Linked DNA regions of Homo sapiens: region 1 is linked to region 2. Evidence: fine-mapped expression QTL. Tissue or cell type: whole blood. Region 2 holds a variant in brackets; the other region holds the start of a gene. All regions are shown on one strand. Distances are between the middles of the regions.

Region 1 (8,107 bases), 140 kb before region 2:
AAACTGGTATTGAAAGAAATGCTTTTGGGGATATATCTATGAAATCTAAATTTCTTGGGCATCTTTATATAAGAAATAGTAAGTTATATGTTGACCAACACTTTAGTAACAGCTCTGTAGTAGATATAGAGCAGGTTGTGTAAGCTGGCTACTGTTTCACATAGAATTACTGTATATAAGCTGAGAGCATAATGTCAAAGCATAGTAAAGGCAATTCTGCTTGAGGAACTTCTAAACAATGTCACCAACATATTTACCTTTCTAATAACTTGGATTGTTCTGAAAATAAATCATAGATGCTCCAGAAGTATAGATTATCCACATGTGCTTTAGAAAGGCATTCATATATTTCATGCCTTTCAGCAATTTTTTTTGTAAAAGTTGGGCAGTAGATATTGGCAAGGACCTGAAGTACAAGTATTCTGTGTTTTATCTTTTTGCAGTTCTTCATCCCTTCTTTGGCAATGGCTAATAAAACATGAATAGCATATTAATCTGTGTTTGTATAGAACTTTGTAGAACTTACCATATTATTTTGCCACGTATCTCCTCGAGGGCAGAGACCAAATCTCATTTATCTTTGTATCTCAGCATCTAGCAAAGAAAGTGGAACCTAATGGATTTTTAATCCATTATGCTTTCCTGAATAAGCCATTTTGCAGGCTTTTGAGAGCATCATTACCTTTCATATAGCTTGAAAAGGGTCAGGGTCATGCACCAACTAATACCAAGGAACCTAATTTATAATCAATGCTTTCCTTTGGCATCAATTCAGAAGCATTAATGGGAAACGCTAGCAACCTTCAAAATGTAAGCATGTGTGTATGATGTCAATGACATAACAAATCAACATTCACACAAATGATCTATGAAACAAGAAGCCTATTCTACCTTTTAAACTAAGTGAGAATTAGAACTGTAATATCCAGATTTTAAAAATCAGCTTTATGGGCATTTACCATGGAGCCATATTTCAAGTCATAAAGTGACAAGTCAAAGTCTCCAACCGTGATAATAAATTATTGGAGTGGTGCTTATACATCCGCAGCAGAATCATGTAACTTAGTTCTGCTCCCTTGAGCTCGGCCTGCAAAGAGAATGAATGGTTATAGATCATAGTATGGAAATACAGACTCAACTATACCACTGGTCCAGACAATGTCAAAATCAAAATCAAAGGAATCAAATTCATAAAAAATTGTTCATACTGTACAGACAAAATGTTTACATGATTAGTCTCTGAACTAATTTTGAATAAATTATTTTTGTAACAGTTTGGAAACATACATAGAATAATAGATGGAATAAAATGATCTCCTTTCCCACAATCTATGACTGACTGCATTGCCAGAATTCAATATCTCTAGCATCTTGCTACTTTATTTTTATTTATTTATTTATTTTGAGACAATGTCTCGCTCTGTCACCCAGGCTGGAGTGCAGTGGCACAATCTCAGCTCACTGCAATGTCCGCCTCCTGAGTTCAAGTGATTCTCCTGCCTCAGTCTCCTGAGTAGCTGGGATTACAGGCACCCACCACCACACCCAGCTAATTTTTGTATTTTTAGTAGAGACAGGGTTTCGCCATGTTGGTCAGGCTGGTCTCAAACTCCTCACCTCAGGTGATCCTCCTACCTCGGCCTCCCAAAGTGCTGGGATTACAGGCATAAGCCACCACTCCTGGCTGCATCTTGCTACTTTAATTGGTCCCAAAACTAGTAATCTCTGGCATCACCTAGGAAATTGTCAGAAAAGCACAATCTGAGACCCAACCCCACACCTACTGAATCAGAGTCTGCATTTTAGCAAGATCGTTGAAGATTCATATGCATGTTATACTTCAAGAAGCACTGTTCCAGCCCAGAGTGCTAATAAAGAATGTGGCCCTTGGCAAGTTTAAAAAGGGTCAATAAAACCATGGCCATGGAAATGTCCCTAGAATAAGATATGTCTTTCAGTCTTTCATAGAGGGCAGTTAGTTCACCTACATTTTAGGACATCTTAATAGTTTAAAATCAAAAAACAACTTTTAAAAAATGTGGTCTTATATGAACTCTCAGTTATACATTGCCCATTTTTTTGTAAGACCATTACATTTCCTAAATCAGTAAATACTCTAAATAATCATGAAGTTTGTCTTCACTTTGTTATTGAATCTAGTTGCAGTTACATTACGTTTTCAAAGTATTTTCTTTAGATGAGTGTCCCAATTCTGTATCTACATTTCCCCCAACGACTCACAGTCCAGTAGTTATAAGGTGAATAATTAAGATTGTAGGGAATCTAAAAGTGCTTGCAACTTGTAGGTTCTGGATAGAGTCGCAAAACATAAATAGAATTGGGAACCCTGTAACTGAGTTTGTTGAAACGGCCAGACCCCTAAAATAAGGATAAAGAGCAAGGTTTCTGTTGTTGTTTTTTTGTTTTCCTTTGCTTTGCTTTGCTTTACCTTGCTTTCAACGTCGGTTAGGTTTAGAATCTACATATTCAACACTGTTTAGAAAACGTACCTGGCAGCTATCTAGAGCTTTATCAGAGCGTTTCCTGGCTGCTATTTTGTTGTCTTCTAGCTTGTGTTGGGGAGACAGGTCTCACCACGCACCATTTCAGCACTACGGACAGCGCCTAGGCGCCTTCTCCTAGAAACGGAAGGGGATTCAGTTGTGTTTGTGTGGAAGAGAGAAGGGAAAGAGTAGAGGAAAAGAACTCCAAACGACACATTCAGTCTCCAGTTAAATCAATACACCTTTCACTCCTGAATTTTCCTTACCGGATAAGAAGAAACGTGTAAGAATTTAGTGCCTACTGTTCTACTGAAAACGGCTGTCACCAAAGCACAGCAAAATGCCCGCAGCACAGCCAGGAATGCAGCAAAGAGAGCAAAACAAGGATTTCAGCAGTAAATCAATTAAACCCTCACTGCCTTAGTAAACAAAGATAATGATGAAATCTAATTGCTAACCTTCAGGGTGTGTCGTGAGAAAAAAAAGGAGTGTCTATTTTTTTCTTCCTCTCTTCCTCTTTCTTTTAGCAGAACTGAAGAATAGAGCCTGTTGCTGCTGGAGCTGATTCCCTTCCCCTCCTCATCTCCCACCTCCTTTCAGTCTCACATACACACACAGATGCTGCCACAGACACACGCGAGCGCAAATATTTACACACTGCCACACCGAAGAAATCCATGCACGTTTTCCTGCAAACGCGCGCGCGCACACGTACTTCGGCGGGCGCCCACGTCCTCTGTCTCACCAACAGACACAGACATTTACACTTCTAGGCCAGGAAAGCGCTAACCAGGGCCCTGTGACTCTACGCAGGTTCCAGAACACGCCTTCTACATTTGTTACTGAACCGATCAGCGAACACAGACAAACGTGCCAACACTTAAGTCTACTGGCTGGACTTCATCTCCATGGCAACAAGCATGGAAGGTGAGACATCGCTGTCTGCGAAGTAACTTTCTCCCCCTTCCCTCCGCATTAACTGACAGCGTTCCAAATGCAGGTCCAGATGAGAAGCATGTCCTCATTCTCTTGTATTTCTGAAGCAAAAGAGCGGGGGGTGGGGCGGTGGGTGGAGGAGCCAGTAGGTCTGATAAGTTCAAATTCTAAAGGAGAAACAGCACCCCTAATGCTAGCGCCACTGCTGATGCGGCTGCCAGGCGGGGGAAAAGTGTTGTGTACGTGCAGATTGCTGATGCTTCTCCCATAATGTTTTGTAGGAAGTTTCCATGCTTCTTCGGTTTAGTGCGTAGAAAGAGACCTGGAAACAAACAACGCAGAATGATGATGATGGTCTAGGTTTCTTTAATGAGATATCTGGAGAATTTTCAGACCAGGTTTCCCAGTGCGTTGGAAGGATTGAGTGTCAGAGTCCTTGAGCCATCCAAAGATTCTCTTAAGAGAGAAATTCTCTTAAGGTTGAAATCTGAGGGTTTAGGGGTGGATTCTGGCAGATCCTAAGGTCTGGGATCTCTGGAAAGCCCTGAAATTTATGCATTTCACCATGATGAAGACATCTAGGTTTGTAATTTAAGGTTTTCCTTTTATTCCAACACATTCGATTCTTAATGATTAACTACCTCTGTGCAGATGTGGTTTCAATAATGCTTCTTTTCTCTCTTTTACTGGGATATAATCTTTATATTTTGTGTGGAGTGTGTATATGTATGGAATGGTTCATTATTTTTTAAGCTTGGGTTTTCTTATATGTCTTATTTCATGAAATTATGAATGTCATCATTAGCAGTAGAGATTATTATATCTAATGACCAGTGCTAAAATACTTTCTACCTAGAACATCATATTCCACTCTAATAGTTATTATTTCAGGTTTATTGTTTGGAATACCATTACTAGAGAAATAAACAAGAGGAAAAACCTGTTGATTAAAATAAAACACAGGAGGTTCTTTCTTTAATGGGTACACACTTTTTAACATTAGTTTCTGTAATTGTGCATTGTTGCATGATTAAATGATTTTATCTGAAAGGTATATTTTTATATCTCTAGTAAGGTTATTTCACAGAAGACATAAACATCACTAACAATATTCATGAATATGAAAGGCTGCATATCAGGTATAAAAATACTATCATCTTTGCTTAACTGCTTACGGAGATATGATTTGTAAGTACTGATCATAGGAAGACTTTGTTTTTTACTTACTAGTTGCCAATTACAAAGCAACTTCATGAGATTTGGGCTATTTGATATCTACAGGAACACCCCTGGCCCAATCTTATGACTCATCAGTACTTAGAAATCTTGGTGCCTGACAATTGCCATGAAGGAAATGTACTTTCAACCAAGTTACTCATTGCCAAAGTACCTAACCATTTATTCCAGTGAATATGGCTCAAGACAATATTTTATCATTTGCATCAGTAGTATTAAAAGACACTTAAATATTTTAATCATTATATATATTGATCCTGATATTTAAACTGTGCATTGTTTATTTTACCCAATTTTGTGGTATAATATATTTCAAATAACTTTTACCACTACCCAATTTTACATTCTACTTATTTTTGAAAGTTCATTTTTTCTTAACTATTTTTATATGGATTTTTTAATATATGGTTTTGTAACTTAATCTAAATTTTCTCAGATTTCTTTTTTTTTCTATTTCCCAATAAACAGGATATTAAAATGATGCTTCTCTGGAGCTAGGCATTACAGTGTCTGTTGTGAATAGCTCTTCCAGCTTTTAGAGAAAGTGAAAATGCATATTTTATCTATAACTGTTGAGTATTTTGAACACCTTAGTAATTGTGAATGAATCAGTTTTATAACTGGGGACTTTTGTTTTTAATAATATTTTGTTATTAACAATATTTTCATATCATATTATGCTCTATATCAGTAGAAAAGCAGGACTTGGCACACTTAACAGTATATCCTCAAAAACTTTGGATTTGTTGTTGAAATGAGACAAGTTCTTCATTTCACAGAGCAAGTAAAATGGAAAGTTTGGCCAATTGTTTGAAAAATTTAGGCCTGAAATACTGATATTTCAACTGCTATATATATGGTTTAAATTACTAAAACCATCTATTTGCTGAACACATTGTTAGGCAATTGCTTAACTTTTTACTTCTATTTGCTTGTGTAGGCACAGCCTGCAGCAATGGACAAATTTTTAATCAGCCTTTGAATATTACTTTTTCAGTTGCTCTCCTTGACCTGTATTTTGTTTTCATCTTTAGTATAAAGTATATTTTATGATAAATATAAAAGCCTGTTTTCTCTTTTAAGATATTAATAAAACATTTGTTCTTTCTCAACCCATTTTTTTTTTGTTAAAAATGGAAATTTTACAGTTCTTTGAATCCAGGTAAATTTATGGAGCTCTTCCTTTAAAAACTGAATATGCAGTCATGTCTTCATTATTGAAAGTGATTCATCATATGATTTAACCTTCTGTACCGACTAAGTAAAACTTATTTTCTGTCAAGTTTATTTACCACCTGACTCCATTTTCTCATTACCCCTCACTCCTAAATCCAATTCAATTTAGTGTCCCTCCTAGACTCTCAACTAAATTTTTATAATGATGAAATAATTCTGAATGCCAACCATAAGACCCTGTTTTCCAGTGCTTAGTTTCCATCACCGCTGCAGAATTTGACACTGTTTGCTAATGCCTCATTCTAGAAGCCCTAGCCTCCTTTATTATAGGTGAACTTTCTGCTACAGATTTACTCATGATTCATCTTATATAACTCCACTAGGAGATCCTCCTTGTAGGAGAGGCATTCCTTGGAGTTCCTTGCTAGGCTTCTTCCATCTTTAATCTTTTCTGGTAACAGAAAATAGACTTTAATGGAATTACAGTAAAATTGCTCTCTGGATCAATCTAGAACAAGTCCATCTGGCTTCCTACAAGATAATATTTCAAATATTTGAGTCTACCTATTGTCCTTCTTGGTCTTCCCTTTCCTAGGCAAAACTCAACAATTCTTTTCTTCTCTTTAAGTTTTGATCTGCAAATATTTCTATGTACTGGGCTCTCTCCATCCTGTATAAAGTCTTCTACACAAACGTTATTTGACAACAATACCTTAAAATATTCTCCCCATCAAAAATTTTATGCTAGACAAAATGATCTGGATAAATTTATTGAAAGCTGACAATTGAGTGCCTACTAAGTGCCACACATGAGTACCACAAATTCACCAAGTCCAGAAATAAACTTGTCATTTACTTTTTAAGTCTATGCTTTGCTCTTATTTTCTTTGTTTTGATTAATAAAAACACTATATTTACACTTGTCCGAGCTTAATAGTGTAGAGTCATCTTTGATGCCTCTCTCTCCTTGGGCCCACTACTTTCCAAATCCTATCCCTCCTACTTTTCTAAATATCTTTCCAACCTCTACCCTCTTTCATACATCTACTCCCTAGTGGAGACCCTCATTGCTTCTCACCTGAACCATTTCTTTCCCGTGATGCTCTCTCCCTCAAAATTATGTCTATTTCAGTCTCATCATCAAGCCACTCAGCCTTTAAGCAAATAGATTTCAAACTCTTAGCCTGACAGTCAACATATTTCACAATTTGGCTCCAACCTACCTTTCCAACGCTTTGTTTCCCATACTCCCCCTTGCCTGTACCAAATTGCTCACTGTGCTCTGAAAAAATCCAGTATTTTTCTGCCTTCATATTTATTGTCATGCTTTTTTCTTCTTCACAGATTTGAATCATTCTGTCTCTCAAGACTCAGTTCAAATACAATCTCTTGCAAGAAAAACTTTCCTGATCCCTCAATGGGTGATATCTTGATTTCATCTAAACTTGTTTATCCTTTTTGGATCTTCTTTTTTTTCACCAAGATGTTGAAGATAGTATCAACACTATGTGGGTGTTGTGGGAATAAAATAAAATATGTAAAGCAGTATTTGATACACAGTAGATTTTAAATACAAGTTGGCTTCCTCTTCCTTTTTTATTGCTTTTGTAGAAGCCTATGTTGTTGTTTCTTTCCTTGTGTGTACATGGCTCTTCTCCCTTACTAGTTGGAATCCCTTTAAGTAGAGGAGTGCATGTCTACTAGAGCATACTAGCAACCCAATAAATATGTTTCAATGAAAGTATAGTGAATATATGCAGTGTTACTTTATATGTGGCCTGACACATTATAATAATGTTATTACTTTCTATCATTTGCACCCCTATTCAATTTAAGACATTTGCTTTTATAAGCCACCACCTCATATCTTTGGCTCAGGCTAACTTGACTAATTGCAGCTTACAGATTTATTTTACATGAATTGCCAAGTCATTATCTCCCCTGTTTGGATTTGGTGCATCTCCTTCCCTCCCACTTAAACAAAGGGCTTTAGAAGTGTTTCTATTAAATTTTATGTTCTAGCTTCAACCCAGAATTCTAGGCATCAGAATTGTCTTGAGTGTTTTTTCCATGTGCTATCATATTTCAGCCACACTTTGTCAAATTTAATAAGCTTCACTTCAATATCTTCAACTTAGTCACTGTTCAAAAACACTGAAAACATGCGTAGATTAAAGTGAAACCTTTGTAATACCACACTGGAGACCCACGTCCATGATTATAGAACCCGATATTTATTAGGGTAGTTCAGATCT
Region 2 (8,107 bases):
GAATTTGTTTCCTCTAGTTGTCATGATTAAACGAGTTTTTTTTTTTGAGACAGGGTCTCACTCTGTTGCCCAGACTGGAATGCAGTGGCATGATAATAACTGTCTGCAGCCTCCCAACTCCTGTGCTCAAGTGATCCTCCCACCTCTGCCTCCTGAGTAGCTAGGGCTACATGTGCCTGCCACCCACCATGCCTGGCTAATTTTGTATATGTTTTGTAGAGATGGGGTCTGCCTACGTTGCCCAGGCTGGTCTCGAACTCCTGAGCTGAAGCAATCCTCCCACCTTGACCTCCCAAAGTGCTGGGATTACAGGTGTGAGCCACTGCACCCAGCCAATTTTTTTTTTTTTTTTTTTTTTGCGACGTCGTTTTGCTCTTGTTGCCCAGGCTGGAGTGCAATGGCGCAATCTCAGCTCACCGCAACTTCCGCCTCCCGAGTTCAAGCGATTCTCCTGCCTCAGCCTCCCGAGTAGCTGGGATTACATGAATGTGCCATCACATGCGGCTAATTTTGTAGTTTTAGTAGAGACGGGGTTTCTCCATGTTGGTCAGGCTGGTCTCGAACTCCCGACCTCAGGTGATCCGCCCGCCTCAGCCTCCCAAAGTGCTGGGATTATAGGTGTGAGCCACCACGCCTGGCCTCGAGTTAATATTTTTTAAAGCACTTAGAATACACCTGACATAAAGTAGTAACAATGTGTATCTTTGTTAAAATGAGAGAGAAATCCCCAAAATGGCAAAGATAGGAAAAACAACCATGCTTTTCAAGTACTGACTTGCATTTTCAGAAGGTTCAAATTGGCACTAGACTTAGGTAATTGAATTAATCAGCATGACTGATAGGATAACTATAGTCTGATAAAGAAAACACCATGAAGGGCAGGGTGCGGTGGCTCACGCCTGTAATCCCAGCACTTTGGGAGGCCGAGGTGGGCGGATCACCTGAGGTCGGGAGTTCGAGACCAGCCTGACCAACATGGAGAAACCCCATCTCTACTAAAAATACAAAATTAGCCAGGCGTGGTGGCGCATGCCTGTAATTCCAGCTACTTGGAAGGCTGAGGAGGAGAATTGCTTGAACCTGGGAGGAGGTTGGGGTGAGCCGAGATCGAGCCATTGCACTCCAGCAAGGCTCTGTCTCAAAAAAAAAAACAAAAACTATGAAGTAAATTATGGTTGAAACATGTTTAGTTCTTAACTGCAGTATCTTGCATTTAAGGTGTATGTTCATAACAAGTTATATTTCTATTGTCATAAAGAACGTTCTATTAAATGCTTACTGGCTCAGAATCCTATTACTTTTTGCCAGTTAGATTATGGCCGTTTCTCTTTTAGTCTAAAATAAACTCAGCTGAAAAGTAACAATAAACACTTTATGTATACAGATTAACAACAAAAAATAGAAGGTAACCTGCTTGGTGTTAGATATTGTAATAAGCCAAACAAGTAACTTTTGTGTAAACACTGAAGTAAGTGCTTTGAAGAATTCATAAAAGTTTATGACTCTAATTCATGTGAGAGATAAAATGCATATACATCAGAAGATTACACAATGAAAGTATATGGCTAACGACTAATGAATGATATAGTAAGTGTTAAAAGAGATAAGATGGGGCAGAGGTCACTACTGATTGTAAAAAGTTTCATGAATGAAGCGAGACTTTTATCTGGGTCTAGGAAAATGAAGTCGTTACAATCATTACATCTTAGTACAAGCAAGGAATCAAATAGTATGTCTCTCATGTGAACATTTTAAGTAAATAACTGGAGAAAGTACTTCAACAAAATAAGGGAGCAAAATAATGTTGGCTCAAAATGAGGTCGAAAAGTTGCAGGGCTCGGATCGTGTTGCTAAAGGCATAAATTTGGGAGTCCTCAAGCTGTAGCTAATAGTTAACGTCCAGAGAAGGTAGTGTATATTCCATAGCCTCATGCAAAGGAATTCCAACTACGAAGACGAACCAGTTAAGGAGACCGAAAAGGGGGGGCCTGTATGGAAAGGCATAGCAACGAATGTAAAATTTCCCCAATAATACTCTAAAACTGCCCCACAGCTTTTTTAATTTTGAAAATTCAAAACCATTCAATTCAGCTCGCAGATTTTTGTGAGAAATAAGGAGATACTTGCAGCTCAGAAAAAATTATTAACAACTATCTAGAAAGTTACTGCTTTATCCCCCACTGTAAACTATACTACCACGACCCGGGATCCTTGTTCGACTCCTAGCCAAGGGGTTCCCACTGCGTTTCTGTTGGGTTATCCCAAACCTGTGATAGGATAGTAGCGCCCTCCCTGCCTCCGGTCGAATAAACACTACAACGTCTGACACTCGGTGCTGAAAGGAAATCGGGCGCGGTGTCTTGCCCACAGCTTGGGGAGCGGCCCCGGGCGCAATAACTGTCACCGGCGCCGAGATGCGGTTCCGGCGCTTAGGGCGCCGCTAAACTCAGAGCCCGGGAGTCATGGCTGCGGGCGGTGCCGCCCCAGGTAAATCAGTCCAGGAGCAGGGCCCGGGCCTGGCGTACACTCTCGGAAAAATGGGGGCCAGAGCAAACAAGAAGAGCGAAAGCAAGAGGGCTAGGCAGCCAGAGGCGGCAGCAAGACTCAAGACGCCAACGGCGCCGTCTTCCTGGGGCCCCAGGGCCTGCGCCATCCCTGGGCTGCCGGGGCACCGCCTCTCCACGCCCCTCGTCCGGCGGCGGCTGCGACTGCTTCCGAGGTCATGTTCCCAGGACGGGCGCGTCTTCAGGGTGGAAGCCTGGCGCACGTCCGGAGGTGCCGAGGACCCAACCAGCCCAAACTCTGGGGGAAATGACTCCCCTCTGCCCTCGCCCCGCGCTCTGCTACCATTTCCTTACGTCTCTGCTTCGCTCAGCGATGCAAAACGCGCGAGGCGCACGGCAGAGGGCCGAAGCCGCGGTACTCTCCGGGCCAGGCCCGCCCCTCGGCCGCGCCGCGCAGCACGGGATTCCCCGGCCGCTGTCCAGCGCTGGCCGCCTGAGCCAAGGCTGCCGCGGAGCCAGTACAGTCGGGGCCGCTGGCTGGAAGGGCGAGCTTCCTAAGGCGGGGGGAAGCCCGGCGCCGGGGCCGGGTAGGAAAGGCGGGGGAGGGGCTCCGGCCGTCTGGAAGGAATCCACGCGGCTTGAGGCTGTGGGGGAAGTAGGGTGGCGAGCGGTCCTTCTGCGCGCGGGGGGCGGGGGGGGTGGGGTGGTCCATTAGGGTCCCCTGGCGAGGGGGCGGCTTTCTAGTGTGTGAGGGCGACGCCCTAGAAGCTCCCCTTCAAAGTTGGCCCCACGCGCTGAATGTGGAAAGTTGACTGGGACCCAGTAGTTTCCCATCCCAAACCTGCTTTCCGAGAAGGGCTTCAAACCCAAAATGTGAATCCCGCCTCCCCTCTCAGCCAGAACTGTGGACTCGTCCCGGGGAGGGGCGGTGGGTGGGGCGGGGCTGGCGGGAAATTTCGGTTTTGGCGCGCTCCCTGCGGCGACGCTCATCGTGCGCTCTCCTCTTCCCCCGGTGGTCTCCTCGCTCGCCTTCTGGCTCTGCCATGCCCTGCTCTGAAGAGACACCCGCCATTTCACCCAGTAAGCGGGCCCGGCCTGCGGAGGTGGGCGGCATGCAGCTCCGCTTTGCCCGGCTCTCCGAGCACGCCACGGCCCCCACCCGGGGCTCCGCGCGCGCCGCGGGCTACGACCTGTACAGGTGAGCGGGGACCTGCCGGCGAGGAGGCTGGGAAGGGCCGGCCGTCCGCTGCCACAGCTAGAAACAGTCACCGGAGAGATCACAGGAACACACTAGCTATAAATAGGATTTCTGCCTTTTTCGTGTTTAAAATTTTAGCTTTCATCTTTGGCATAAATTAAATAGAGATTTGGGCAAAGACTGCAGAATAAGTAAAATAGCTATACGGTGTCTAGCAAGGCGTTACTTTGCAACGTTTATTGTGCCCTTCCTAAATAGAAGATAGAGAGGAAGGCCCATGGTGGCTTTCGAGTGGCCCGAGGGTGATGCTGTGCTCAATAGAAAAACCAAGGTGAGAGCCTAGATGTGAGCGTGAAAATACCTAAGAAGGATGAACGAAGATGCATCTGCCT[T/G]AAAAAGTTATTTTCTATACATTCATCCGGCCCAGGGCGGAATTTGAGAAGGCATCTGAAAACGAAAGGCAGAGCTGCCTGTAATCTACCACACTTTCATCTCTACAGCACGTTTTACCTGTACTAAAAACTTTCCGTATGCTGTTGTATTTAGTCCTCACAACAATCCTTAACTAGATAAGTGTTACTTTTTACACAGGCAGGAGTTTGTGAAGAGCTGAATTGATTTCCCCAGAGGCTTGAAGATGATATAATTTTTTATCCCGAATTTTGGGCTTTTTTTTTTTCATCTGACTACTGTGCCCAGTTCTTAGAACCATTAAGGTAGGAGAAAAGTAATGCTGAGAGGGAAGGAGATTTTATACTAAATCCCAAGCATTGGGATTTATTTTAAAGTATCTCAGATAATTCAAACATGAGAACTATTAGTCTAAGCACAGGAGAAGAGAAAGTAGTGCCTGATGATAGCAACAGAAAAAAAAGGAAAAGGAAAGTAGGTATGGACAATTGTAGCTGGAAAAACTACAGTCTCTTAATTTTGATGAATAAAAGTAGAGTGATATAGTTTGACTAGACCTTTCCAAAGTATATTTTGGAGCACTTTCTTGAGTCCTAGGGGAGTCCTTGATTTAAGATACCTTAAGTAGACTCCTAATAAACACAGGTGACTTTCTGTATACTGAAATTGACATGGAAATAATGGATCAGCAATAAATTAGGGCTTAACTGTTTAAAGAGGGATTTCAGTGAAAGAAGGGGTAGTACTGCTTTACCAGAGTTAATTAAGGTCTCCAAAGTAAACTTCCGGTTCTGCTCATTGTAAAATCTCTTAAATTTCTACCCAGGAGAGGGCCACAGTAATATCAAGAGTAGCAGCATTTGCTATGTGGACTTTAGAGGAATTCTGTTCCTAAGCAAGGTCCATCTCCAGGGGCCGTTCACGGTGATCAGCTGTCTCCCTCAGCCAGGAAATTCATAGCCTAAGCTTGGTAAACTACCAAGCCCTGCCTGACAGATACAACACAGTTCTTTATCTCTTATTTTGTCCACCCGTTTTTCTCCTTTCCTTCTGCATATTTTCCCTAATCACACAGATCATTGTGAGAATAAAATGGGTTAATATATGTAAACCAATTAGAACTGTTCCTGGCACACAGTAAAGGCTTAATCAATGATAGCTAGTATTATTAGTAGTATTTGGCCTTTTTTCTTTGTTCTTTCTTCATTTTTTTCCTTTTCAAACTATGGTTGTAAAGCATCCACCTTTTGAAAGTTTGCCTTTCTGCCCTTTCACGCTGATAAGTACCTCAGTTTCCAATAAACTTTTGTTCAGGGGCAAACATTTACAATGTTGACATCTCTTCACACCACCAAAAATATTCATGGAGAATTATTTTATCTAAAGCTGTCTTTTTAATAATAAAATAGCCACCTCTACCTTCTTCATAAACTTTTAAGATGAATTGGTAATTCATCATAGCAAGGTTGATTTTAGAAACTAAAGTTGCATTAATTCATTAAATACACTGAAAGTAATTTTGTATGCTTGGTCACAAAGAAAATATAAAAACAATTTTATAAATAGATTTGCAGTTATTTTCTTTCAATATTTTCTTAGTGCCTATGATTACACAATACCACCTATGGAGAAAGCTGTTGTGAAAACGGACATTCAGATAGCGCTCCCTTCTGGGTGTTATGGAAGAGTGGGTAAGTCATTTAAGAAACAGGTAACTATTTGTCAAGTTCTCCTTTGTGATAGATTCTTCATGTTTCATTTGGGGTAATAAGCAGGCAATATTGCTTGGGCTGTGTCCTAAAAGAAGCACCATTTGTGATAGCAAATGCACTCTTTGAAAGGCTTTATTTACATCTCTGCTTTGCCTCTTTTTGACCCTTTTATTTTTCTCCTTCCTCACTGGAGCTTTTAGGCTCACACTGGCCTAGAAGGCTGTTCTCAGAACATGGCATTTTATATTATGAGAGTAAAACTTCTGACCTGTTGGTCCCAGAATGTGTAAGCCTACTTAACCTTTTCTTGTTTGGCCATGGGGTTAGGGTAAGGGATACTCTTCAGTGTTGTAGAGGCACTGGGAGGAGCTAGGACAAAATGGAGTACACGTCAACAGGTTTGATTTTTCTGGAGCGGATCAGTTGTTACCAGACAGTTCTTTGCAAGAGCGTAAGTTCTTTTTGACTAACTTCAGAGTAAACATAAAGGAGGCAATGGAGCTGTGACGCCCTCCTCCAGGGAAAGGAGCTAGACTGGCACTATATTATTAGCCATGAGTGAGGAAACTGCCAGTACTTCAGCCCTTAAAAGATAACAAGATGGGCTCTCATCTCATCTCTTGAGCATCATTGACTCCATTTTTTAGAATTTTTTCAGGGGAAGGGGCAGGAGATGGAGTGAAATAAAGGTTAGTACAGAAAGAGGCAGCATTATTGACAAAGTGCCTGATTTAAATTATTCTAAAATAAAATGCTGGAAGTTAGGATAATTAATTATAGGCCTGATGCTTGAGTCTGCAATAATAAGGTGTAACCTTAGCTTTTTATTTTTTTCATTTTTTAGGATTAAAAAGTATACTAGCATTGAATCATTGAGACTTAGTTTTTGGCATTTTTACTTAACTGATATTAGCCCATTTATCTTACTCTGGTTCATGTGTTTCCTACAGGCATGTCTTTTGGCATCTGAATCATGAATAGTGGGGTCCCAAGTTGTAGGCTATGGTCTGCTACTATTTGGTTAGGTTTGTTTCCCTCTCCCTTCCTCTTCCTTTCCCTTCCCATCTGCATTGTACATGTTGTGGTGTCCCATCTTAAAACCAAAGTCTTCTTCCTCAGTAGTGTGTTCCTGCTGGCCATACTTCTCTTTCTTCCCCTTTGAGGCTTAACTTCTTGAAAGAGCAGCCTACAGTTGTTCCCGCTTGCTCACCTTTCAGCTCATTCTAGCAGTCCTTCTCCCCTGTCTGCAGCACCACAAATTCTGACTGAAGTCACATGGGAGTGGTTTAAGTTAGTTTTGAATTAAAACCTTGTGGAATTTTTCTAAACTAGTCTTTCCAACTTTGGTAATGCAGTATGATGAATATATATTCTTTAATTCAAAACCATGTGCTAAAGTTAAGATGAAGATATAGATATTATAGGTGAAGAGAATGACATGCTTAAATTGCATCAGTTATCTCTGATATAGCCCTTCCCCCTTAAAATAACCAATGTCTCCTTTTTTGTTTTTTAGCTCCACGGTCAGGCTTGGCTGCAAAACACTTTATTGATGTAGGAGGTAATATATTTCCTTTTTTATTCTGTAAATGTTTGCAAGTATTTACTTTGTCTTTAAAAGGTAATATTCAAATGACAGATTTTATTTTTAAGAAAAGAAAATGATTAGAGGAAAGCTTGTTATAATAGGAGGAAAAGCTTTGTGGTTATTTTAAGTAATTATATTTTGTTTAACTACTAACTTAATTTTTAAAATAATGATTACCTAATTAATAATGACAGATTTAATGATATAATAATTAAGTAATTATTTAAGCAACAAAAGTTCTAGAAAACACAGGTCTATCTTGTAAGAATTTTCTTCATAAGAGAGCTATCTGTCTTTAGCAAAATTTAAGAAGAAAATCTTTCCCTGAAGTCAGGAGAGAAAACACTTTTCTCTAAATTTGTTAAGACAGTCCTCTGTGTTACCTGTTTCCCTTATAATAAAGCCTTTCTCATGTTTGTCTCAAAGTTAACCCTACCTCATGTGGTACCTTTCATGAAGAACCCTCAGTGTCCTCTGCTAACTACTCTTGATACAGAGCTACTCCTCTTATTGTAAGGAAATTTCTACTTTCCTGATGTGGTTTCCTTGTTTCAGGTCCGCTCCAACTGGGATTCAGACCCCACTTATGTGGTCCTTACATACTGACCCTTTATCCCATCAGTAGTGAATCTTTCACTTAACAAGATACCTTGGCCCCCACATAAGTAGGTGTGCTAGATCTCCTCCTCCACCC

Evidence for each region. PIP is the estimated chance that this variant, and not a neighbour inherited with it, causes the effect.
Region 1: it holds the start of CTXN2-AS1, and the variant in region 2 is fine-mapped to the expression of CTXN2-AS1 in whole blood (INTERVAL, PIP above 0.99).

The regions. Positions count from the first base shown.
Region 1 is chr15:48,188,423-48,196,529 of GRCh38, forward strand. It overlaps CTXN2-AS1 (CTXN2 antisense RNA 1), which reads right to left and starts at 3,287. Exons shown (of 3, transcript NR_184082.1): 1 at 3,163-3,287; 2 at 2,511-2,639; 3 at 1-1,087. It overlaps CTXN2 (cortexin 2), which reads left to right and starts at 3,243. Exons shown (of 2, transcript NM_001145668.2): 1 at 3,243-3,431. RefSeq lists an enhancer at 3,247-3,750.
Region 2 is chr15:48,328,705-48,336,811 of GRCh38, forward strand. It overlaps DUT (deoxyuridine triphosphatase), which reads left to right and starts at 2,725. Exons shown (of 7, transcript NM_001025248.2): 1 at 2,725-3,091; 2 at 3,564-3,702; 3 at 5,713-5,804; 4 at 7,342-7,386. The coding sequence starts at 2,812. It overlaps DUT-AS1 (DUT antisense RNA 1), which reads right to left and starts at 3,152. Exons shown (of 3, transcript NR_186809.1): 1 at 2,859-3,152. RefSeq lists silencers at 764-954, 2,948-3,157, 3,208-3,502 and enhancers at 2,233-2,759, 2,760-3,284, 3,208-3,502. The variant T/G (reference allele first, on the strand shown) is at 4,095.